Regions from separate parts of the Homo sapiens genome. Here regions 1 and 2 are each linked to region 3. Evidence: fine-mapped expression QTL. A gene starts in region 3. Each other region holds a variant in brackets. All regions are shown on one strand. Distances are between the middles of the regions.

What was found. PIP is the estimated chance that this variant, and not a neighbour inherited with it, causes the effect.
Region 1: its variant is fine-mapped to the expression of CACNA2D4 in whole blood (TOPMed, PIP above 0.99).
Region 2: its variant is fine-mapped to the expression of CACNA2D4 in caudate (GTEx, PIP above 0.99). The same link has a PIP of 0.9 or more in putamen.

What each region holds. Positions count from the first base shown.
Region 1 is chr12:1,807,528-1,815,701 of GRCh38, reverse strand. It overlaps CACNA2D4 (calcium voltage-gated channel auxiliary subunit alpha2delta 4), which reads left to right. Exons shown (of 38, transcript NM_172364.5): 27 at 3,979-4,040; 28 at 5,115-5,159; 29 at 5,362-5,424. LOC105369601 (a long non-coding RNA gene) reads right to left here and starts at 2,506. Exons shown (of 5, transcript XR_931546.3): 1 at 1,840-2,506; 2 at 1,571-1,688. RefSeq lists an enhancer at 2,492-2,731. The variant G/A (reference allele first, on the strand shown) is at 3,765.
Region 2 is chr12:1,796,307-1,804,480 of GRCh38, reverse strand. It overlaps CACNA2D4 (calcium voltage-gated channel auxiliary subunit alpha2delta 4), which reads left to right. Exons shown (of 38, transcript NM_172364.5): 30 at 2,837-2,907; 31 at 3,363-3,438; 32 at 4,043-4,095; 33 at 4,429-4,481; 34 at 4,786-4,806; 35 at 6,946-7,063. LOC105369602 (a long non-coding RNA gene) reads right to left here and starts at 4,042. Exons shown (of 4, transcript XR_931549.3): 1 at 3,558-4,042. RefSeq lists enhancers at 6,445-7,349, 7,350-8,174 and silencers at 7,277-7,506, 7,607-7,736, 8,077-8,174. The variant C/T (reference allele first, on the strand shown) is at 3,668.
Region 3 is chr12:1,914,208-1,922,381 of GRCh38, reverse strand. It overlaps CACNA2D4 (calcium voltage-gated channel auxiliary subunit alpha2delta 4), which reads left to right and starts at 3,730. Exons shown (of 38, transcript NM_172364.5): 1 at 3,730-4,135; 2 at 7,447-7,528. The coding sequence starts at 3,909. RefSeq lists an enhancer at 5,081-5,657.

The DNA.
Region 1 (8,174 bases), 110 kb after region 3:
ACCTGGTAGAATTCGGCTTCCCCGTCAAGTGGCTGGCTCAAATTGAATTTGCTTACGTAGCTCAAGAAAAATTTATGGAGTCACACTGTGATAGGTACGATTCTAGGTGCTGGGGATCAAAACTCAATCCCCTGCCTGCTATTAGCCCCAGACAGACAATAAATGAGAAATCAAATAGATGAACAAATCATGTCACTTAGAAAATTTAAAAAGTAATAAGGTAGAGAGTGAAAGTGAGGGAGGTCCCCCTGGCTGGCTTTATCTCGGGAGGCCAGGGACAGCCACTCTAGGAGATGATATTGGGCTGAGACCTGACGATGGGAAGGAGCCAGCCATGTAAAGTTCTAGGGGAAGGGCATTCCAGGAGGAGAGAACAGCTGGTACAAATGCCCTGGGGTGAGAATGAGCTTAACATGTTTGAGAGGTGAAGTGTTTCTGGATGAAATCAGAGAAATCAGCAGAGCCAGTTCCTGTGGCCATCTTGCAAGTTTAGATTTTAAGATCAATGGGGACCAGGCATAATGACTCACGCCTGTAGTCCCAGCACTTTGGGAGGCTGAGGCAGGTGGATCACTTGAGGTCAAGAGTTTGAGACCAGCCTGGCCAGCATGGCGAAACCCCATCTCTACTAGAAATACAAAAATTAGCCATGCATGGTATCACACGCGCCTGTAATCCTAGCTACTAGGGAGGCCGAGGCAGGAGAATCACTTGAATCTGGGAGGTGGAGGTTGCAATGAGCTGAGATTGTGCCACTGCACTCCAGCCTGGGTGACAGAGTGAGACTCTGTCTCAAAAACACAAAACAAACAAAAAAGAGCAATGGGACGACATTAGAGGGTTTTAAGCCAGGGAGTGGTGTGATTTGATCTTCAGAAAGATCCACTCTATGTGGAGAATGGATCAGAGAGAGGCAGGATGCAAGGCGGGGGCCAGTTCGGGGGTGCTTGCATTAATCCAAGTGAGAGCAATGTTGGCTTGGCCAAGGGTGGTAACGGTGGAGATGGAGGGAAGCGGACAGATTTATAAAGTTTTGGAACTGAGGTGTGCAGACGTTGGATGGGAGGAGGGAAAGTGATAGCAATCAGATAGAAAATGTGTCCTGAAATGGAGAAGTCTCAAGGAGGGTCAGGTCTGGGGGAGAACACGCTAAGTTCAAAGTGAGAGCTGAAGCCAGCTGGACTTCTTGGGTCGAGTGGGGACTTGCAGAACTTTTTTGTCTTACAAGAGGATTGTAAAACGCACTCATTAGCGCTCTGTGACCCAAGGGCAGATGACATGCCAATAGGCGGTTGCAATGCCCTAAATTTCGCAAAGGACACCCGGGGCAAGACACACAGCTTGGCTTGGAGGAGCCTGGAATGGAACCAAGTGGGGGAAAATATGCTCTGTGCCCTGCTCCCCCCATTTCTGCCCAAGGAGCCTCAACACCTACACCCCCACCCTCTCCAGACTCCCCATGTTAGAATCGTAGAATTCCTTCCAGCTCAGAAATCTCATGATTCTATGCGACTTGACACTGAGCCATCAAATGGAAAGGCAGAGTCTCATTCTAGGAATAATGTGAGACCTCTTTGACCACGGAGGCCAAGGACAGGATGAAGGAAGCTTTCTTCAATCCCGAAGAGCTGGTCATTCTGAGCAGTAGCGTGATTCGCTCTGATGATCCTCTTTCATTTAGCCTTTTCCTACAGGTGAAAGAAATCTGTCTAAAATGAATGTCTAGGGTGGTCTTATAAGGGAAAAGAAGGAGAAGAGACCGAGGGGTCCCCGCAACCTTAGAGGGGCACATGAGCGGGAGGAGGAGCACAGCCATGCTAGGCCCTGAGCACACCTCACCTGCCGCTGTGCGCTGTGTCTGCAGCTCTCATCTTTGTCATGAGCCAGCAAATGGGTCTCCCCGTCCCCTTCCAGCCCACTCCTTTCAGCTACCTGGAACTCAAAGCAACAAAGACACCCCCAAAGCACTCAAATGTTCCCATATCACAGGACCTGTTCAAGAAGGCCAGCCAGCCGGAGCACCACCCCAGGATTGCCATGAGACTCCAAGGGAGGGGAGGTACCTCTCAAAGCCTCGGTTTCTTCATCTGCAAACTCAGATGAGCTCTAGAACAACACTGTCCAAAACGCTGGCCACCAACCATACGTGGCTATTTAAATTTAAGTTAATTAAAATTAACTGTTTTTTAAATTCGGGTCCTCAGGCGTGCTAGCCACACTCCGAGTTCTCAGTAGCCACGTGTGGCTGTTGGCTACCGTTTAGGACAGCACAGATGTAGGCCATCTTCATCATCTTAGGAGATTCAATTGGTGAGGCTTTAGGACGGGGGTTCCCTAAATATAGTGCCTGGACTAGCAGCATCGGCAACCCCTGGGAACACTTCAGAAACTCTCAGGCCCACCCTGGACCCCCTGAAGGAGAAACTCTGGGGGCGGGGTTCTAACAAACCTTCCAGGCGATTCTGATGCACGCTGAAGTTTAAAAATCAAGGCTCTAGTCTGGAGTAACAGCCTCACACATTATCTCGCTTGAGCCTCAACAATCTTATGCAACTTCTGCCCTTCCAGGGGAAGTAGAACCGTGACTCATCTTGCAGCTGAGGAGACGAAACGCAAAGATCACAACCCTGGAAAATGCAGGGCTGGACCTCTGGCCTTTGACCCTTCCCTGCTCTCATTTTTCCCATCAAATTTCTCTAAGATCATTCCAGAGTGAAAAAACAAAAACACAATCCTGTATCTCTGTGCCATACTGGAACTCCCACCAACTGGGTACTCGAGAAGTGAGAATGACTGTGACGGACACAGCGTAATGGTTAAGAAGCCACATCCGTTCCCGTTTCACAGATGAGGAAACCCGAGCCTGAGCAGACAGCGGCTTGCCTGTGCCCGCCGCTCCTTCCCGATCACCAGGACTCAGTCCAGGTCCAGAGAGGAGGCAGCTTCAGGGAGAGACAGGCCCAGGCTGCAGTCCTGCTTCTGTGATTAACAAGCTGGTGACTTGGGCAAGCCATGTGACTCTGAAAAGTCTCCATTTCTTCAGCTTGGAAAGTCAGAATAATAATAGGACTGGCCTGCTGTGGGATTCAATACACTCATGCATGTGAGGTGCTGGACACGTTCTAAGCGCCCAGCGCAGTTTTGATATTATTATACCAGACACTAGGAAGCTGGCCTAGTTTTGAAATTCTTCTTCTTTTCAATATAACCTGCCTCTTCTTTCTATTCATTGGCCCCAAGTTTTCCTGGAGCTCTTTGTCCCAGATTTCTCTGGATATGTGAGCACCTGCTTGGGTTCTCCAAGCCTATTTGGGAACCAGAAAGTCAGGGGTGGCCCTTGTAAGCACAGTCATCAAAAGAGAACTATTTGCCAGCTGGTGGTGCCTGTAGTTTCCTGGAACCCACCTGCAGCCCTGGGCAAACCCGAACCTGGCTTTGAGCTGGAAAAGAGCCTCCTTATAAAGCAGGGAAGATCCTGAGCAGACAGAGGGTATGAAAGGAATGGTTACACCAGGTTAAGATCCAAGGAGCCCATGAGTTGCTAGGGCAACGGCCCTGAATTCCAGGGTGCCACTCTTGGTCACGTGATTTGGTCAAAAGGGTGGGTCTCTCTGGCCTCTATATTCCCATCTATGGGAAAGGGGAGACTGAGCTGTCCCATCCACCGGCCTTGAGTTCCCAGAGATCTAGGATGAATCTGCCCTCGTTGTTTTCTGGAATGGGAGCCTCATCACTGCTGGGCATTTTCTGTCGCTCTTCTTCCA[G/A]TGGGAACGAGAGAGGCTGCCGTCTCTGTTCTTCCCCCACCCCTCCCACTCCCCAGAAACCCCAGTTTGCACTCTGCCCTCTGACTCAGTCCTCCCATCCGCTGCGGTCTCTCTCCTCAGTTCCTGCGGAAGCACCTCCTCTCTTTAACTTGACTCTATTTTTTTCTCTCCCCGTCTCTTCCCTGGCCTTGCCCTCTCTCTTTCTGCCCTGTAGCCGCGGGCGTCCAAATGAAGCTGGAATTCCTCCAGCGCAAATTCTGGGCGGCAACGCGGCAGGTAGGTGTGATGTCGGGCCAGGTCGGGGCTGGGGACTCACCACGCTCCCCTGGGTGTGAGACCCCCTCTCCCTCCCCTTGGATGCTCCACTGCCTTGAGGCTCTCAGGATGCCCTCCCGGCCCCTACACTTCTCAGCCCCTCAGCTCCCCAGCCTGCAGGCCGGGCCTCAGCGCTGGTCCCCAGCCCCTGCCAGCCCAGTGCTGAGGGCACGACCCAGAGTCACCCCTTCTCGCCACTCCAAAGCCACTGGCATGCCTCCCCGCTGAAAAGGGAGAGCCACCTCGATCCACCGTCCAAGGTCCGGGGTCCAGGCCCTGATGGCTGGCAAGAGATGCCAGAGACGACAGCGGCTTCTGGCTGAGAATTCCCAGCTCTGCCTGGCCTCGTCCTGTCCGTTCTACTGGCTCCTTTCCCCTCTGCTTCCCCAGAGCCCTCAGGTCCCTCTGGGCTTCTGAGCTGCCCCCTTCATCTCCCTCAAGCTCCCTCAGCCTCAATCTCCTGCAACGCCGAGCCCCTCGGCCCCCATCACTTGCTGCTGCCGCCTGACTCTGGGCAAGGGCAGGGAGCCCAAGAGTGAATCGAGAGGGATGGAGGGCAGGGGGCTGCGGTCACCCACCGCCTCAACCAGACAGCCAGTGCAGGAGCCCCACAGAGCCCACAAAGTCCCCTCCCCACACCAGCAACGAGGCCTGGGGGCTGCAGAGCCTGCACCTCTAGAAGGGCTACCTGGGCCCTTCCACCACCCAGGGCCTGCCGAATGCAGCACCCGCAGGCCACATACCACATGCATACCACGCACACAATGCTAACACACACCACACGCATGTGCCCTCCACGTACAGACACCCCACACATAGACACACACATGCACACACCTCACACACGTGCTCTCCACATACGACACACACATCCCACACCCACACCCCACACAGGTGCCCTCCATGTGCAGATACACACCCCATGCACACATGCACACACACTGCAGACGTACCACACACACAGCATTCCCACTTACACGTGCCATTTCTACTACACATGCAGTGTCCACATTCAGTCTCTCCTCTTCCTTCCAGTGCAGCACTGTGGATGGGCCGTGCACACAGAGCTGCGAGGACAGTGTAAGTTCTGCCCGTGTGAGGAAGGTGGAGGAGGGAGCCATGGCCCTCCGCCCGGTCCTCCTGGCAGGCCAGCTTCCCTCTCCCAAATGCCCTCCTTCCCTGCAGTGAAGCTCCCACGCTGCCTTCCAGAGCTGGGGGACAGGCTGGAGGACCGGGGTGGGTGAGGGCCCTGGCATAACCTCCCTTCTGGGTTTCCTCCCAGGATCTGGACTGCTTCGTCATCGACAACAACGGGTTCATTCTGATCTCCAAGAGGTCCCGAGAGGTGAGTCACTGGGGATATAGAATGAGGGGGAGAGGGCGGCAGGAGGACTGGAGACATTGGGCAGCCACTCCAGCTAAAGAGAGCCCCACGGCCCCAGGAGGGAACCCTGTTCGGGGCCAATTCAGGTGAAAGGTCTGAAGAACATGGTGTTCTGACACCAAAGTCAACAGAGCAAGAAGGCAGAATTTGGAGCACTTTTCAACTCAGGGAGTCAGAGAAAATATTACTTCTTCATTTTATCTGTCACTAGCCTGGCCTCCTCCCGTGCCTGGTAGGAGCCACTCAGTGACCCCATCTCAGGGCCCTGCCTGGCCACACTGGCCCAGCCTCACTCGGGGCCTCCCCACAAGGATCCAAGCACACTCACTTATCAGATCATTCCCCAACCCCCGCCTGCCTTTCTACCATTGTGGGGCCCAGAAGACATGGCTTCCCCACTTCATGTTCTTGTCCTGTCTGGACCTTATGGAAAATTATACTCTCACCCACCACGCCCGGCCTTCGGTGTGTCAGAGAAGAAATGGGGGATGGACGCGATGCTTTCTCGCCTGAATGCCTGGCTTGCACATCCTAATCCTCCCCCCGCCCCCGCTGGCTGTGGGTATCTCCCTGAACCCAGCATGTGCTCAGAAAGGAAAAAGAGAAAGTACAATAATATTTTTATACTTGCTGGGCTCCAAAAGGGGCCTCAAAATGGATTATTCCTTTAGCCAGGAATCAAACTGAGAAAGAAGCCCATTCAAACCTGAAGCAAATCCAGATATATTCACCAGATGTATTTCCTTGAAGCAAGGCAGAAGCATCAGAACCGCCTCCTGCCTGAGCCTCGGGGAAAGGGGCATAGTATTTGGTTCTGTGTGAGCTTTGCTACTAATTAGAAACGTGATGTGGGCAAGCGACTTCCATTAGCTGTGTCTCGCCGGGGGCTGGACTACACAGTGTCTAAGCCAGCCCCAGCTGAGGGCTCTAAGTTCCTGGGATGTGGAGGCTGATGCAGAGGTCGTGGCCAAGGCCACCTCCACGCATGGTAGGGCTGTGGTCTGGCCTGACCGGGATGCGGCTTCGGATCCAAAGAAGTCGTCGGAACAGGGCAGGAACTGGAGCAGGGATGTCGGAAGGAGACTTGGGAAAGAGGGCAAGTGAGGACAAAGGGGCACCAGTGGGTCATGAAATCTAACTCCTTGGGGTAGTGTTTAAATGACCCACTTAACGAGCAGCAGTTCTCAGCCACAAGAGTAGAGAAGCCAAAGATGGTTTCGTTCAACTTCCTGTTGGTGGGAGTGTGGGCGGGGCTTTGCAGGACACACAGCTAATTGAGCATCACGGTCACCTGGGCGCCTGCCTCTGGTACCCTCCCCCTTCTCCCTTTCATGCCCCATTTTCGTCATTTCACTCCTCCCCAGACAGAGCACCGGACCTTTGTATTTTTCCGTTGTTCTGGGAGAAAACCAGTGATGATAAGAGTTGAAACCAGTGGTTGGTGTGAGGCTCTGGGATCACTGATGCCCCCTCATTCGTGCTCCGACCCCTCTCGCCCTGGGTGACTGAGACTGACCGTGTCCCCAGGCCTCCCGTGGTGTTGGCTTTCAAGGGCCGGAGCATGGGCTAAGGCATCCCAGAGAGAGCTTGCATCCTGGACACTGGGATGGGAGGTGGCAGGACAGAGGGAGAGGATGGCCAAGCCTGAGAGCAAGCTCAAGAGCAGGGGTAGGCGAGCGTTTCCTAAAGGGGCGGATGCACATGTTGGTTTTGAGCTTCATGAGACTCAGCCCTGCTGTTGTAGCAAGAAAGCAGCCATGGGCGATCTGTGAGCAAATGCAGGTGGCGTTGCTCCAGTAAAACCTTTGAATACTGAAATGTGAATTTCATATAAATTTCACGTGTCATGAGATGTTATCAATCTTTTGACTTTTTTTCCCCAACCACTTGAAAATGGAAAAGCCAGTCTTAGATCAAGGGCTCACATGAATCAACAGTGAGCCAGGCTTGGCCTACGGGCTGTAGTTTCCAGCCCCTGCTCCAGAGGCAGCGGGACAACCGTGCGGGGAGGCGGCCCTGGAGGGAAACCACCCCAGCCTTGAGAGAAGCTGGAGAGCACGTGGCCTCTCCAGGGTCCCTCCAGGGTCCCTCGAGGGACCCTCTCATAACCCACTGGGCCACTTTGGTCCTATTCTGTCCAGACCACATTTGCTCACATGTCTTCACAGATTGTAAAATCACTGAGAACAAGTTTGGATTAGATGTGGTAGCAATCAATTACTCAGAGATTTATATTTTATAATGTATTTGTTGACTTAACTCATTCACCCCCATTTTCTCAATGATTCTATTACCTTTTTACCCCGTGTGTAGTTTTATATGCCATCCCAAACCCTCCATGAAATGAAGCAGGGCAGAAACGAACTGACCTTCTAGAGGCTCCTGCTGGGGCCCCCGCTCCCGCCGTGCTTGGCTCACCCTTGCTCCCCCACTGTGATCAGGGCCCAGTTCCTCCTTCCTCACTCTGGACAGCTCTGACCATGCAGCCTGAACTGTGTCGGGTTATGGGAGGGCACTAGGCCAGAGACCCTGCCTGGTGTGGTGCCTGGCACACAGCAGACACTGGGTAACCGTGTGGAGAACTGAACTGGCCTGAGAGTGAGGGCTGGAGGCAGCAGGCGCTAGACTGGGAGATGAGTGGAAGACAGGGCGGCGGAGAGTCTGGGGCTAATGCCATTTGTTCAGCTGTCCGACCCTCTGTCCGTCCATCT
Region 2 (8,174 bases), 120 kb after region 3:
CATCCTTGCTCTCAGGGACCTCTCTTCTCAGAATCCAGGGTCTAAACCACAGGGTTGTTGGTGAATAAGCCTAGAATTAGGAAGGAGAATGGGACAGGTTTGTAGGAATTAAGACCAGCCTCGTCAGAAGCCTTGTCTGCACCCCGCTGCACTTTCCCAGGGAGCAGAAGACTCGGGTCATTCATTCCCTCACACATTCCTTCAGCAAATATGCATGGAATAATAACTGTGAACAGGACATGGTGTGGTGCTGTGGGACAGAAGTGGATTTCTGTCCCCTAGAATCCTGCTGTCAGGTGAGGGGGTGACGGAGGGGACACACACACACACACACACACACACACACACACACACACACAGTAACTAGAATAGCAAAAAGCGAGCCCCAGCTGAGAGAGTTTACTCCAGCTGGAGGCACCAGGGAGAGCTTCAGGGCTGCGCCGTGAAGAACAGGCAGGATTTCAATGTCTTTCACATTCCCATGTGCTGTTGTGTCCCTGGAATGCCCTTGACCCTCCCTGCTGTCCCGCTGCCATGTCCACTGCCTTCTTTCATGCAGCCTGCCAGGGCTTTAGGTTGCCACTCCTTTCCACCACCGTAGGAGGTGCCGGTTTTCAGCCAGCCATGTCTGAGAGTTTGTGTGTTCCCTGCCTGTCCATGCAAACTAGTCTGAAGCTCTTGATTCGTGTCCATTTCATTCATCTTTGCATCAGACTCACCTGGTGAGTGCCTTATGAATAAAAGGTATTATGAAATAGTTTTTGGTGGTCAGGCCATTCCAGGTAAAGAACTAGCAGAGTGTAGACAGACAAGTGTGAGCACCTTTGTCTGAATCTGTTTTCCTGCTGCTTACTTTTGTAATTGACCCTCCATTTTTAGATTACAATTTGCCATGCATTTTTAGTGGGTTGCATCCTTACGTTTTAATTTTATAAGTCAGCCATTTCCACTTACACAGGAAATACTGTAGGATGTAAGGACTATGTTTTGTTATTTAAGTCCAATTTGGAAAGTAATACTTCCTGACTCCATCCCAGATTCCTGGTGTGGGCGCATCTGGGGACCTGTGGCCCCATATTGGCTGATTATAAGTCACAGCATTATGAACCATGGGCATAACAGTTCTGGGGTTATTGTCCTGAAGCTGCACCATCATCTCTTATTTGAGAGAGAACTTCTCTGGTTGTTCATTGGGTGTTCAGGAGTTGTGCGTTCTGCCTAGCCCTTGTCTGGAATACATCTCTGTTCCCTTCAGAAGGCTTGCTGGAGTCTACTTGGCTGCCCAGGGCAGGCCCCAGGTGGGCACCCAGACAATGCCTGGCTTTCCTTGAGATTGGCCAGGCCCATGTGCCTCAGCTCCTGTACCAGCCTTGCATTTCTTTTTATTGGTAGTTATCACACATGTCATCATTTTGGGCCCTGGCAGCTAGAAAGCTCTCCATGAAGAACCTGACGTGGCCATCAGCTTGGTTCCCACCTCCCTTCCCTATCAACATTCCACACTGACTGAGTATGTCCAGGTACCAAGACACTTTGGGGAATTCAGAGATGAGTAAGACATGGTCCTGTTCTCATACAGTTTTCAACCAAATATCTTATCAGGCAGAGTGAGACTAGGACTCCACAGGCTGCCGGTGTGCAGAGGAAGGCCTTGTTCTGGCTGGGAAAGTTAGAATAGAAAGACTTCCCAGCGAGGGTGAGGAAAGAAGTTCCTTGGCATGAGGACAGAGGAAGGGTAATCGGCAGGGAGAACAGCCAAGCCGGACCCCGGACCTCTCCTCCTAACGATGGCTGCCATTTTTCAAGTATTTACTGGGAGCCACACGCCGGACACACGCTATCCCCAATTTTTAAAGACAGCCTACATTAAAGTCGAAATCCAACACCAAAGCCCAAGCTCTGCCACCCTGACATGCTGGGAAATGGCAGACTCAAGAGGCCAAGGCAGGTACAGAGGCCATGAGAGGTGGCAGAGTGGAGGGCCTGAGGCCATTCTCAGCCAGCTAGGGGGCCGCTGCTTGGCACAGGGCACAGAAGCCACAAAGTGCTGGCTGATGGACAACAAAAGGGGAGCCGGGGGCAGGAGGGAGGGTCCTGTTTTATTTTTTGGAAATGAAGGCAAGAGTGACCCATCCATGTTGCATTTGAGTAAGATGACTCTGGCAGTGCCACAGGGACAAGAGGAGAGGTCAGTTAGGAGGGCAGGTGGGCAATGGAGACAGGGCAAGGGATCCGGTTAGGTCATTGTCATGGAGGGGACAAATGACCGATCCACAGGGCACACTGATTGTGGGAGGTGATGGAGGGACAGCAAAAGCCACAGCAGCCCTCTCACACTGGGAAGATGAGGACACCAGCGTGCATGAGACAGGCGCTGCTTCTGACCTTGACCTGCAGAAACGTGTTTTATATCTGACCCAACACACACACACACACACACACACACACACACACACACACACACAGCATATAAAACAAATCCAGTTTCATAAAACATTCTTTAACCTTGCTGCAAGTGATTCACACAGAATTGTTCCAAGGAATTCTGTACCATTAAAAAAATCACATTGCAGCCTCTACGTTGGTCTCATAGTCAGCTAGCGGGTGACTCCTTCCAGTTGAGGAAGCACCAGGCTGGACGGTGAGGAGGGAGCCAGGACCGGACAGGGGCGTGGGTGGAAGGGTTCAGCTGGATTATGCTGAGAGGCAGTCAGAGGGAAAGCCCAACTGGCACCAAAAGCCTCGACCTGAGCTGAATAAATAGTGCTGGACTCGGAAGGCTCCATCCTGCTCCATCTCTCTCCCTCCCTCTCTCTCTGCTGTCCCTCTCTCACAGACGGGAAGATTTCTGGGGGAGGTGGATGGTGCTGTCCTGACCCAGCTGCTCAGCATGGGGGTGTTCAGCCAGTAAGTGGGGCACACTCCTCCCCAGTCCAAATAGACACAGCAAACCGAGAGCTGACGCTAAGTGGTCCTGGCGGATCTCAGGATCCTGACCTCCAAAACCCACAGTGGGTGCCCCCAAAGAGCTGCAAAAGCAACCTTTATGGAGCCAGGGCGTCAGCATGATGTGGGGAGGGCGTAAGGGCATGTGGGCATCCCTGGGAGGGGCTCCGCAGCTCAGACCCTAGAGGGAAAACCGTCCAACTCCGAGGGCAAAAGCCATTTGCTCTTCATTGTCTTTAAACCATTCCAAGTGCAGAAATGTAATTTTCAGCATGAGCTGTATTCTGATCTGCTGTCCTAGCTCAGGCGCCCTTGGGAATTGCGGTAAACGGATGCTCTGCTAGTAAAGCCTCCTGAGGCAGGGGCAGGGGGTGGGGGTGGCTTTGGACTCATCACAGCCCGCTTCTGATTTTCAGAGTGACTATGTATGACTATCAGGCCATGTGCAAACCCTCGAGTCACCACCACAGTGCAGCCCAGCCCCTGGTCAGCGTGAGTGTCACCCAGCCCTTCCCTCTGCCAGCCAGCCAGCCAGTCCTCTGCCCTGTCCTGGAATGAGGTCACTGGTCCCTGTTCTCACCCACCTTGGGTGTCTGGCCCCAGGGCCCTACCTTGACCATCTCCATCTTCTGCTCAGAGCCACTGCTCTCAGTCCCACTCCCAGGCAGGCCTCTGGGTCTGGCTTTGGGGCTTCAGAGGGACTGCTCTGGTAGTTGTGACA[C/T]AACAGTGCCTCTGGCGGAGACAGAGAGAGCAGCCTGCCCCAGCCTCAGCCCCTGACACTGCCGCTTGATCACCAGGGATCCTCAGCAGTGCAGCACCAGGATGAGGGCTTGACTCGTCTCCTGGAGGGGCATGTCCAACCCCACCCGAGATGTCTGACCTGCAATAGGCATTTCCCAGCTAGCTCAGCTCTGCAGGGCAGGTGGGAGGTGGGGGGATGGGGGGTGCTGGGCTGCTGGCCTGTGCTCTGCTGCCCCTGCTCCCAGTGGCAGGGCAGCCCACTCTCTGGTCTCTCTGAGGGTGGTGCTGGTGGTGGGGGGGGGGCACCCTCACCCTTGGACCTAGGTGCGAGCGGTGTGCACTCTCTCCTTCCCAGCCAATTTCTGCCTTCTTGACGGCGACCAGGTGGCTGCTGCAGGAGCTGGTGCTGTGAGTGGGGGTAGACACGGGGCTGGTGGAGGGCTGCATGCGAGGGTGGCTTAGGAGGGTGTCCTTGAGCAGGAGGCTGCAAGGTCTCCAGGACAACCCACTTGCTACCAGACCCCGGGGAAGGAGGGCACAATCCCTGGGCATGGACGCCACCTCTTCCCTGCATGCTGCCCCTGGGAGGGACCTCATTGCTCAACCAGAGCCCTCAAGCAGGGAAGAGGGTGTCCTGGAGGAGAGGGGATGGGCCGGGGGCTGTCAGGGATACTCCAGCTCCTTGGGAACCCAAGTCGGGAGGGCTCAGAGGTCTCCGAGATTCAGTCCTGTGTCTGACAGGTTCCTGCTGGAGTGGAGTGTCTGGGGCTCCTGGTACGACAGAGGGGCCGAGGGTGAGTGCACGGAGCTGCAGGGCCATGTGCTGAAGAGCAGTGGCATTTTGGTCCACTAACGTGAGACCATTCCCTGTGGGGTGGGTGACAGTGGGGATAGGTGACCCTGAAGCATCGTTGTTCACATCTCACCCTGCGTGGCCTTCTCTCATCACATCCCTCACTCCTGGCTCTGTGTGTGACATCATCTTGGGACACCGCCACTCCATGTGCCATCATCACCACCCCATGACATCCTGCCCTCATGTGCCACCATGTTTTCCTGTGCCGTGTCCACCCTGTGCTGGGCTTATGTTCCGGCCAGCCAAAAGTGTCTTCCATCACTGTAAGTAGCCCAGCTGAGGCCATCCCTGCTGGCGGTGGGTTGGGGACGCAGCAGGAGCTACAAAGAACCCACCCTCCATGACCTGTCCCAGGAATGACCCCAAGCAGGGCTGAGCTCTCCTGGTTTAAAGTACCATTCCTGGGGGTTGGGGGACTGGGGAGTCTAGCCCAGTTCTCATCCCACATGAGGACGGTCAGGCCCCAGGGAAAATGAGAAACTCCAGCCTCCCCTTGGGTGAGAACACGTAAGATTCCAAGAGGAAGCCGGTGGTGTGGCCGGGTGGCCATGAGCCAGTATGAGTGAGCAACCTCCAGCCCACCCCTTGGAGAAGCAAACAGCGGCACCCCAGCCCTCAGCGGGACTCCGGGTTCCAGGGGCCCCAGGAAGCTCTCAGGATGATTCCCCTGCGGGACCCTGTGTCTGAGGACAGAGTCCCCCAGAGGCAGCAACCATGAGAGGCCCCAACACAAAGCCCGGTGGCTGTGGCCACACGTGCAGGGCGGCAATGAGCCTGGCCTTTCAAAGCACTCACTGCCCGGGCGCCTGGGCCCTCCATGACTGCAGGAGGCCATCTTGCCTCAGCGGGCTCTGCTCAGTTCCTCCGTGTTCCTAGAACCTTTGCCATGGGGTTCCAGAACTTCCCACCACCTGGGCTGTCCCCAGCTTATCCCATCTCTTCATCTCCACTGTGGTCCTCTCTCTGGCTTGCTCTTCGTTCTCTTCTGCTGGCCTTGGCTTGGGGCTTCCTCTGCCCCTGGGCTCAGGGCAGTTCGGGCTGTGTCTCCAGACTCCTTCTGGACTCACATCCGCGATCGGGTGGGGCTGCTCTGGGGTGTTCACAGTCACTAGGTGTCAGTGACAGGACACTGTCCCCTCTGTCTCTGTCAGCAGCTGCATCTTGCAAAAGTTGAAGATGATCCCCCTCAATCTGCCTGCTCAGAATTTCTCTTCTCTGGGGTACCTGTCCCCTGGAGCTCCTCCCCCTGGTCTGGCCTACACAGATGTCAGTGTCCCCAGTGAAGGCGCACTGGACTTGGAGTCCCAGGCCGGGGCGTAGGTGCTGCAGCCCCTTCCACTGCGTGACCCTGGGGACGCCACTCAACCCTGCCATTGTCAGGCAGGCTTCTGTGCCCAGCCCTGGGGACAAAACTCACAGCCCTGGCCGCTGTGGGCTTGCTCCTCTCGGTGAGAGTTTTCTGCACGCCAGCTAGTGTCCCCTCTGGGTTTCCAGCTCTGGCTGGGAGCTTCTGGATTTGGAAGCTGGGGAGACCCATGCTCTCCTGTAGGACTCTGCATGAGCCTGGGAAGGTAGCTCACACCTGTGCTCCCTGCCTCTAGGTCTATCCCTGGGGGCCACAGCCAGGCCCTGAGAACAGAAGGGCCATGCAGACAGCCTGTGTGGCAGGGCCCTGCTCTGCCATGTGCCCACCTCAGGAGGCTCCGGGAGGGAACGGACTCGGGTCCTGCAGAGCGGGGCTGAGGCACTCGCCTCCACCTTTGGTTGAGTCCACTGTCCTTGTCCCAGGGAGCTAAGGCAAATCGCGCAGCCCCCGAGGAGTCCCGCACCGGGTGGCTGTGGCTTCTGGGCTTCCGCAGCCCCAGGCCTGGAGCCCACCTGCCCGGCTGCCCCCACCGCAGGCGCTCAGGCTCAATGGGTGGAGTGTGGGCCTGGCTGTGCGGGAGAGCAGGGCAGGATTGCCCAGGAACTGCACTGCGTCTGTCCACAGTGAAGGGAGGGGTGGTGGGCCTAAGTACCCCCAAGCCACCCCTTGGTGCCCCTACTGCCTCTGCTCCCCGCTCAGACCCTCCCCCGGGATCTGAGTGCTGGAAGGGGCCCTGGAGATGGTGCACTGCCCCCAGCTCAGTGAGGGCCAGGCTCCCCAGAGGAAGCGCTTTCCCTCCACCGAGGCTCAGGGCCCCTGCGGCGCTCCCCGTGCCAAGCCACCCTCTCCAGAGACTCCGGGTGTCTTCCCTCCCCTCACCCCCCGCCCGGCTCCTCCCACGCGTGTCCTGAGAACTGCCTGAGGAGGGACCCTCTGCAAATGCACTGGGGTGAACTCTGGCCCTGGGAGTGCCGAGGCGAGGTCACCGCAGGCCAGAGGCCCCTTCGGTGGCGTGATGTCCTTTCTCCGCCCGCAGCCCACAAACACAAGAAGCAGGACCCGCTGCAGCCCTGCGACACGGAGTACCCCGTGTTCGTGTACCAGCCGGCCATCCGGGAGGCCAACGGGATCGTGGAGTGCGGGCCCTGCCAGAAGTAAGACCGCAGGGCGGCGCCGCCCGTCCCGCCACACTCCTCCCGCCCTCGGCAAGGCGGAAGTGCGGGCAGGGCCCCGGAACCCCCGGGAAACGGCTCCACAGCCGGGAGGAGGGGATGCGTCTAAGTGCAGAGCCCACGCTCCCGGGGTCTTCCCCCGCCGTCCTCAGTGGAGGAGACACGCAGGAGGCGGACGGTCTGAGGCGGGCAGGACGGCTGGGGACCGGGACAGCCGGGATGGGGAGAGGTGGTCCCGAGGCCTGACCCTGTGTGTCGAGCCCACCCCGCCGAGGCCGCAGCCGTGACCCCACGGCGTCTCTGGGCGAGTGGGCCCTTCGGCGGGTCTCCCCCAGCCCTGCTCAGGCGGTGCCCAGGGCGGTGCCAGTGCCCGCGCCTGAGCTGCGTGGGGAGAACTTGGAAGGCAGAGGGAGTGTGAGAAGAGAAGGCCGGAAGTGTGCGATGTCCTCGGGTCGCTGGGAGCCCCGCGGGCAGCCTCTGTCAGGCTTCCTGCTGTGTGGAAGCCGCTAGTTATAACCCGCCCTGGCCCCGGGGAGGCAGGGAGGCCGCGCGGAAGGGTCTCTCCTGCTGACCCCCCGCACCCAAGCCCGGGAGGACCCCCACGCTGGGAATGCGGCGGCCTCCTCGAGGGTCGCCTCAGCCAGACGTGCCGCTCGCCAGGCGGTCCCTAGACCCCCGGGCCCGTGGCACACCATTTAACAGTGCGGCACCTGCGGCGCTGGCATCGGGGCTCCCTTCTCCCCCACTCCCTGCGCGTCGTGCTGCGCGGGTTTCACCCCGGGTTCTGTGCAGCGTTGAGGGCTGGGGTTAGCGTTCCCTGTGCACTTGTCGCAAAGGCTCGGTGCGAGGATAGAGCCAGCGGGCTCCGGAGTGAAGCGAGGGCTTCAGAGTAGACACTCCTGAATTGAAAACTGGCTCTGCGCTCCCCCGCTTATGACCGTGGGCAAGTGACTTCGCCTCCTCTAGTCTCCATTCTCTCATCTGCAAAATGGGCACAACACCAGCCTCATACAGAGCCGTGAAGGCTGAGAGTATACACGGCTGTGGTGTGCACGTTGGGTGTGTGAGACCGCCCATCCCAGGGGAGGCGCTC
Region 3 (8,174 bases):
CGGTTTCCAGCCCTGGCCACTGCAGTGTCCCTGCAGGACTCCGTCCACACCTCTGTAAATAGCCTCTCTGTTAAACTCGTCTCAAGCTGCCCGATCCAGGGGTACCAGCTCTTCCTGCAGGAAACCCGACGCCAGACACTGATGGAAATGAGAGGGCCGGCCACGCAGGGGGAAGCAGGCAGACACAGCCGCGGCGCGGACTGCAAGCTCGGGGGTCAGCCGCACCGATGGGGGGCGCGCCTGAGGCACCCAAGGAGCAGCGGGAGCCCGCGCCCAGAGAGGCGCGGTCAGGAGAAGCCAGCTCCAGCCAGGTGGGGCCTCGTGGCTGTGAATTTGGTGGCATTCATCAGCTTCTTAAAATTTGTAATTTGGAATGATTTTTAAAATCAAGCCAGCTCCAGCCAGGTGGGGCCTCGTGGCTGTGAATTTGGTGGCATTCATCAGCTTCTTAAAATTTGTAATTTGGAATGATTTTTAAAATCAAGCCAGCTCCAGCCAGGTGGGGCCTCGTGGCTGTGAATTTGGTGGCATTCATCAGCTTCTTAAAATTTGTAATTTGGAATGATTTTTAAAATCAAGCCAGCTCCAGCCAGGTGGGGCCTCGTGGCTGTGAATTTGGTGGCATTCATCAGCTTCTTAAAATTTGTAATTTGGAATGATTTTTAAAATCAAGCCAGCTCCAGCCAGGTGGGGCCTCGTGGCTGTGAATTTGGTGGCATTCATCAGCTTCTTAAAATTTGTAATTTGGAATGATTTTTAAAATCAAGCCAGCTCCAGCCAGGTGGGGCCTCGTGGCTGTGAATTTGGTGGCATTCATCAGCTTCTTAAAATTTGTAATTTGGAATGATTTTTAAAATCAAGCCAGCTCCAGCCAGGTAGGGCCTCGTGGCTGTGGTCAAAACTGTGGCTTTTCCTCTAAGGGAGATGGGCAGCCCTGGGGGCTTCGGAGCAGAGGGAGGGAGCCACAGGGTCTGACTTACGTTTGAAAAGAGCCTTCGGTTGCTGCATTAAGAATAGATGATGAGAGGCAGGGTGGGGAGGCCCGGTACCAGACAGGGGCCCGCAGGAAACAGGTGGGAAAGCTGGTTTCCAAAGGACTCCTTGGAAAGGGGTGGATGTAGGGGACGCAGGATGCAGCCCAGCTGTACCCCCTCCTCCACCAGTCAGGGAAGGAAGCCGTCGCTGGAGCCTGAAGGGGAAGTGGGCAGAGGCAGCCGCCTGGAGGCCGGCGGTGGCCTTGGGCTGAGAAGGCCTGGTTTTGAGGCTTCCTAAGTATGTCTAAGGGGCGCACAGGACACAGGCCGCCAGTGTGTCTGCGAAGGACGGAGCTTTCCAAGCCGCTGTCACGCTTGACACAGTAGAGGGAGGCGAAGGCTTTCCGGACAGGGTGCTGGAACCCCGTGGGGGCAGTGGGAGCTTGTATAATGTGGGAGTGGTTACCCATAAAAGAAAAATAATGCAAATCCCAGGTACAAACATAAAAATAAAAGTGAATATTTATTATCGAAAGCAGGATCTCGAGAGATATTTGCACACCCGTGTTGACGGCAGCATATTTCACAGTAGCCAAAAGGAGGACACCACCCCAGGGTCCATCGATAGAGGAACGGATGCACAAAATGAGGTCTATCCACACAATGAAATATTAACCCATCATTGGTCACCCCCAAAAAGTAAGGAAATTCTGACACACGCGGCACCGTGGGTGAACCTTACCGACATTGTGCTAAGTGAAATGAGCCAGTCATGGAAGGACAACTATGTGATGACTTCCCTTCTGTGAGGTCCCTAGAACCGTCAACATCAGAGATACAGAAAGGAGAGTGGTGGCCGCCAGCGGCTGGGGGAGGAGGGAACGGGAGCTAGTGTTTAATGGGTTCAGAGTTTCAGTTTTACAAGATGAACGAATTATAGAGATAGATGGCGGCGAAGGTGGAGCAACATGATTAATGTATTTAATTACACTAAACCGTACACTTAAAAAGATGATTAAGATGGCACATTTTATGCCACAATAAATATTGGGCCACAATAAAAAAGTTGAAAAAAGGTGAATATTTATTCAGTTTTAAAAATCATTCCAAATTACAAATTTTAAGAAGCTGGTGAATTCCACCAAATTCACAAAACCTAGAGAAGTTACATTCTTTTTATGTATTGACTGCCCAGTGTGCCTCTGTAGTATTTTTTCTAAATGTGTTTGATTTGTAATCCTCAAAACATGTACAAAATTTATGTGAAATTAAGGCATTCATAGGAATCATTTAGATGCCTTTAAAAAATACATTGTATTCAGCCACAAAACTGTGCCACCAGATTACTCTGATACTACAGCACTGACTTATTGATGAATCTGTGTAGGAGTTTTGTCATCAGAACACTTGCTTCTGCAAGCATTTCTCTGCGTTGGTGGCAATTTTGCTTACCATTTTGCTGGAACCACCAGATTTTGTGAAGACACAGTGCACCAGTTACACTAAGAAAATAATCTGATACGGGGACTGCATAAAATCTATGACTTCACCCCCGGAGAACCCATGTGGTACTACTACTGGTTTGGGCTCACAACACAAGAATTTTGATCAATTCTAATTTGTGTAACTCTCATCAGAACACAAAGCAATGTACGGTGTAATTATATTCTTTCAATATCCACTATTTTCCTAACAGGAGAGAACTTCTGTCCTGGCCAGGCCTTGGTGAGAACCAAATCCTCCACCAACGATGTTACCTGTGTGGCTTTTTGTAGATTTTCTGCAGATGAGCTCCTGACTGTTACTTTGCCCTCCCCACCACACATGGCCAGGGTGGGTGTGACAGCGTGCGCTCACATCACGGCCCAGCCTCTCTTGCTGCATCTGCTGGTGGGATGTCCTGTGGGATGAGTGTTCCTGGAAGCCCTGCCTACACTCAGCTGGAGGTAACTTCTCTGTACAAAGAAGTCACTGTGAACCATGTCAGCATATCCCACTAAGCCCAGATTAAGTGTTTCCCCAGCTCACTTTCCTCTTAACTGGATCCCCCAAGTGCCCTCAGCCACCCAAACATCATCCAACTAAGAGTCCCTCAGACGGAAGAGAAGTTGGGATGGAAAGAGACAGACAGTCTCAACCGGTTATGGTTAAACTATCTCAACTTTTGCATATTTTACAAAAACATTTGGCCACAGGAACACATTGCTAGGGCCTCTCCGGGAAAGGGGGGAGTCTGTGGATTCAGGGGTCCTGAAGCTTCATCAGTTGCACAGCAAATGCGTCCCCAGCCCCGCCCACGAGCAGCTGAGATGTGGAGGCGTGGGTCCACTGACTTCACCTATGACCTATGACCTGTCCCAAAGGCACCAGGCCTGGAAACACCAGCCAGAGTCCCAGCTCTGCCCCTGGGACTCCCCGGGCCTCAAGAGCCTCTGCCAAGCAGGGATGAGGACACACCCCCACCTCAGGGTCAACAAGAGATTTGTGGGTCAATCAGAGTACTGTGCAAACTCAGCTGCTGTCCTCTGGCCATAGTCACAGCAAGCCCTTCCTGGGTCCAGAAGGTGGTTCCACAGGAACGGGGCTGCCTCTTTAAAGCAGAGGGGTGCACTATAGCCCTGAGGGAACCAGCTGCAGTTGTGGTAATCTTGGGAGGCAGCTCCCCACCCCCTGCCACCCCCTCCCTGCTGTCAGGAGAGGATTAGAGGAGAGGCCAGCGGATTAAAGGGTTTCATGTTGCCACAGCCTCTCCCCCAGTCCCTGTCTCCGAGGCCTGCTTGCTAGGTGGGGCGACTCTTCTGTGAGCTGCAGCTGTGGGGCAGAGAGAAGCCCTCCCCACCCAGGACTGAGAGGCTGGAGACCCCAGGCTCGCCAAGGCACGGAAGACAAAGGCCTGGGGCGTCCTGGGGTCTGGGAGGAAGGCAGACAGAGCTCATGGTCTGTGGCTGCTCTGCCCTCCTTCCCCTCCCCAACCCCAGGCCCACCATGCCTGCAACTCCCAACTTCCTCGCAAACCCCAGCTCCAGCAGCCGCTGGATTCCCCTCCAGCCAATGCCCGTGGCCTGGGCCTTTGTGCAGAAGACCTCGGCCCTCCTGTGGCTGCTGCTTCTAGGCACCTCCCTGTCCCCTGCGTGGGGACAGGCCAAGATTCCTCTGGAAACGTAAGCATCACGTTCAACCCCACCCCAAAAACCCGGTCACCCTTTCCCACTTTCTTCCCGGGCTGGGCCTCCATCCTCTGCCCACTCCTCCCGCCCCTGCCCTCCCTCTGGGCTTTTCCCCAGTGGCTGCGACTGACCACTCTCTTGCTGTAAAGCCCTTTGCTTCTCCGGCCTCCTCTTTCTCCTCCCAAAAGCTCTGTGAGTTCTGGAGTCCCACCTGCCTCTCCCCAGGAGCCGGATGGCTTTAGGAAGAACTGATCATCAGGGCTGCTGTCTTCCTGGCCTGACAAGCAGCTTCTGGGACACCTGAAGGGCGGGTGCTCCTTCAGGATAATCGCTGAGATGAGGCAGCCTGGAGGAGCCGGGTTATCTCAGCATCGCAGCTCCCCGAAGCATTTGGCAGGAAATGCGTATTTTGACATTCCAAAAAGGGGAAGCAGTTCTGAACCCACAGAACGTCTCATGCGCACAGGAGGTGGCTTGTCCAGGAACTGGGGAAAAAAATGGATTTTGGTGGCCGCAGTCTTCCCTTTCTACACCTTTCTGCCTCCTTCCAACCTTGATTCTCTAGCCGGCCATTAAGACCGGCTCCAGGAAAGAACCCGGTATCAGTCATGTGCACCTTGGTGTACATGTAAATTACTGTGCAACCTCTCTGGGGTGTCTGTGTTTTAGGCCCTAGCTCAGGTGGTCCTAGGAAGGAAATTTCCAATACATGTGGGTAGCAGAGCCTTCTAGACTGTAGGTGCTACAGACCCCATCCTGTTTACTCCAGCCGCTTGAGCCCAGCACCATAGCCAGGCCACCAACAGAGCCACCTGCCAACTGCATGTCTTAGCAGGAGTGGGGACAGGGAGCCTAAATGACACACCGTGCCTGTGCTTAGCCTTTGCTGACCAGTGGATTAGGCAGCATCGTTTCCCATCGAGCCGCATAGCTCTCCTTGTTCCCTGCCTGGCACGGAGCTGGGCGCTTCACAAATGACACCGTTAGTTTGCAGAGCCATTCAGTGGGGGCTTATTTTTATCCCTATTTTGCAGCTGAGGAAACAGAGGCCCCGAGAGGTCAGGTGACTTCCCCAAGTTCACAAGGCCAGGAAGTGAAGGTGCTGGGATTTGAACTCCTGTCAGCCTGGACTGCACTTTCACCATTACACCCGCCGCCAGCCCGTAACGCTATCTGTTGCTGCAGGAGATGTTCAGAACAATTTTCATCCCCAGAACACACACCAGCTGATAGGAGAGGGCCAACTCCAGGAGTGGGCTGAGGGCCAAGTCGGGGTGGCTGGAATCCAGGCCTTCAGGGAGGGGGGCCCCAGCGGCCATCTATGCAGAAGCCCTGGGTGCTGCCAGAGACAACAGCCTGCACACAGCCTCATCTGCCTGCCCAGGACTTGGCCCCACCTGTCCTCACTCCCGCCGAACCTCTCTTCTCAGTCTTTCCCTCCAGCCGGGCTTCCACCTCCTCCCAAGTCTGTTTCCACAGGGTTCCCAAAGCCCTCCTCATGCCCAATCCAGGAGACATTCCTGGCCTTGTCACCCCAGACCCTGTTGCTTGGGACACACAAGCCCCCGTCTTCTTTTATCCCAGTCCTTGACTTCCGTGGCACTGCGCTCCGCTGGGCCTGCATGGGCACGGCTTATCTCTGCTGTCCTCAAGTGCTCCTCCTCCTCTGCCTGCCCCGGAGGTGGGGGGTGCTCCCCAGCAGCTGTCGACGCTCAGAGATCTCACGCTGCACACTCTCCTTGAGAGAGCCCTCCTGCCCTCAGAATTTCAATCCCTACCTTTGCATCAATGACTCCCAGCCCTGTCTCTACCTACTAGACACATACCCAGTGCTTATGGGCAGCTTTTCCTAAACATCATGTGAGGTTTTAAATTCAGATTTGTGTCTTTCAAGGTAAAACACAATTGGTGCCTTCTAGAGTTGTGCAGTGCACAACCTTCCCAATGGTACTTGGTAGCTCTACAACGGGAACCTCACATTCAGCAGAGCCCAAGGTACACACATCACTTTTCACCCTCCTCAGCTCATTCCCCCTGCCCTTCCTGATAGTCTTAATTGTATTCAGTAACAACACCATCAGGTCAACAACCCACACTGGAAGCCCGGAAGTCACGTTTTACTCCTCCAAGCTCTTCTGTACTCCCGACCTAGAATCCTCTCCCAGACCCCTTTGCAGGCTAACCTCTACCAAACTTCTAACCTGGAGCTCAGATCTCCCTCCCCAGGGAAGCCTTCCCTTATACCACTACCCCTCCCCAACCTTCATGGGCACCTTCAAACATGTACTATGCTACCCGCATGACAAAGCTGTCCCTGCAAGGGTGGGGACTGTGGGGTGGCTCCAGGCTGCCACATGGTAGGACCTTGATAAACATTGGTTGAGTGATGACTGCTGATCTTGAAAGGATCGCACAGGCAAACCACTTCCGCTCCATCTGGAGAGGCTCAGCCCCAGCCCTGTGTACCTGCCCCCAGGACCCCACCAGCCTGGCCAAGATGGTGGGATTGTGGTGCATTTCTGGGGCATGGGCGAGAGGTCGGGGCTCCCCACTAGGCTGCCTACACAGAGGGTGAGGTGTGGCCTCCTTATGCCCTCCTGGCCTGCCCTGCCCTCAGGCTCAGCAGTGGCAGCTCAGAGCCTTTTCCTGCTGTGCCCTTGCCTCACGCGTTCTCTGAGGTTTCAACAGAGGGTTCGGCAGCCCCCAGTGGCTTTGAGTGGAGTGCACTGGAGGGAACGATTTATTGAGAGGCCACAGCTGTGGCCAGGCAGGTTGTCCTTTGTCCTCAGGGTCCTCCGGCCCTGGCCTGAGGCTGTCCACTGCCTCTCCCCTCCTTCTCTCCTCTCAGTCTGCCACTCTCCAACCAGAGGCCCTGGAAGCTTGGGGTCAAGCTCAGTCCTGGGCTCGTCAGCCCGGCCCCACAACCCTCAGCAGGAGAACCTGCCGAGGACATTCAGCACACAGCAGTGCAGCCGCTGGGTCCTGAGGGTTCTCCGCGTCTCCTGCCCAGGCCATGGCTGTAGCTTTAGGGACAAGGAGGAGGGACAGGTGCTCTTTTGTGTGTTTCTGGGCATATGTCACGTGTGTGTATGCATATGCATGTGTGTGGGGGGTATGTATGTGTGTGTACGTGTGTGTGCATTTCTTATGCATTATGTGTCTGTGTGTTGGAGTATGCATGCATCAGCAGGTGTCTGTGTGTAGACACTGGCTTTCTATGTGTGTGAACCCATATGTCTACGCGTGTGTTTCTGTATTTGTGCGTGTACGTGTGTGTATACGCGTGTCCTTTCATTGCCTGGCAGAGTGAAGCTATGGGCTGACACCTTCGGCGGGGACCTGTATAACACTGTGACCAAATACTCAGGCTCTCTCTTGCTGCAGAAGGTCAGTCACCCCCTTCCAGAGAGCCCACCGGGTGGCAGAGGGCAGTCAGCCATCGAAGCCCCCAAATGCCGGTGCTGTGAGGGGCCTTGGGCATCCCATCAAATCGGTTTATTTCAGATGGGGCCACTGAGGCCCAGGGAGGTGAATGATTTTCTCAACTCCCAAAGCAGGGCAGTGGGGGTGGTTCGGGGGCGTGGTCAAGAGCATTGTGTCAGGTCCTCAGGGAGCAGAGGCCAAGGTGGAATTAGACCTGCAGATGTACTGGGTGGAGGTGGGGTGAAGAATAAAGGAGAGACGGAGGGAGTGGATGCAGTGGGATGCAGGCCTAACACCTGTGATGCCAGCGGAGACTTGGAGGGCACGTGCAGGGCCCTGGAAGCTGCTCGGGCCGTAGAAGGTGAAAGGGCTGTGGCCTCTGCGCAGGGAGACCTCCCATACCTCCAGCTGTCAGCCCCCGAGCCATGTCCAGCATCCGCCCCCTTAATATGCATTGCTTTCTGTGCCGATTTATGGCTGGCTGGTCTTCTTACCAGGTTATAAACAACTTCACTGTTCTCTAATATTTGTAACTCCCCAGAGCAGTTCCAATGGCAGCTCACCCTTCTCTATCATTGCCACTCACTAAGAGCTTCATTGTCATGATTTC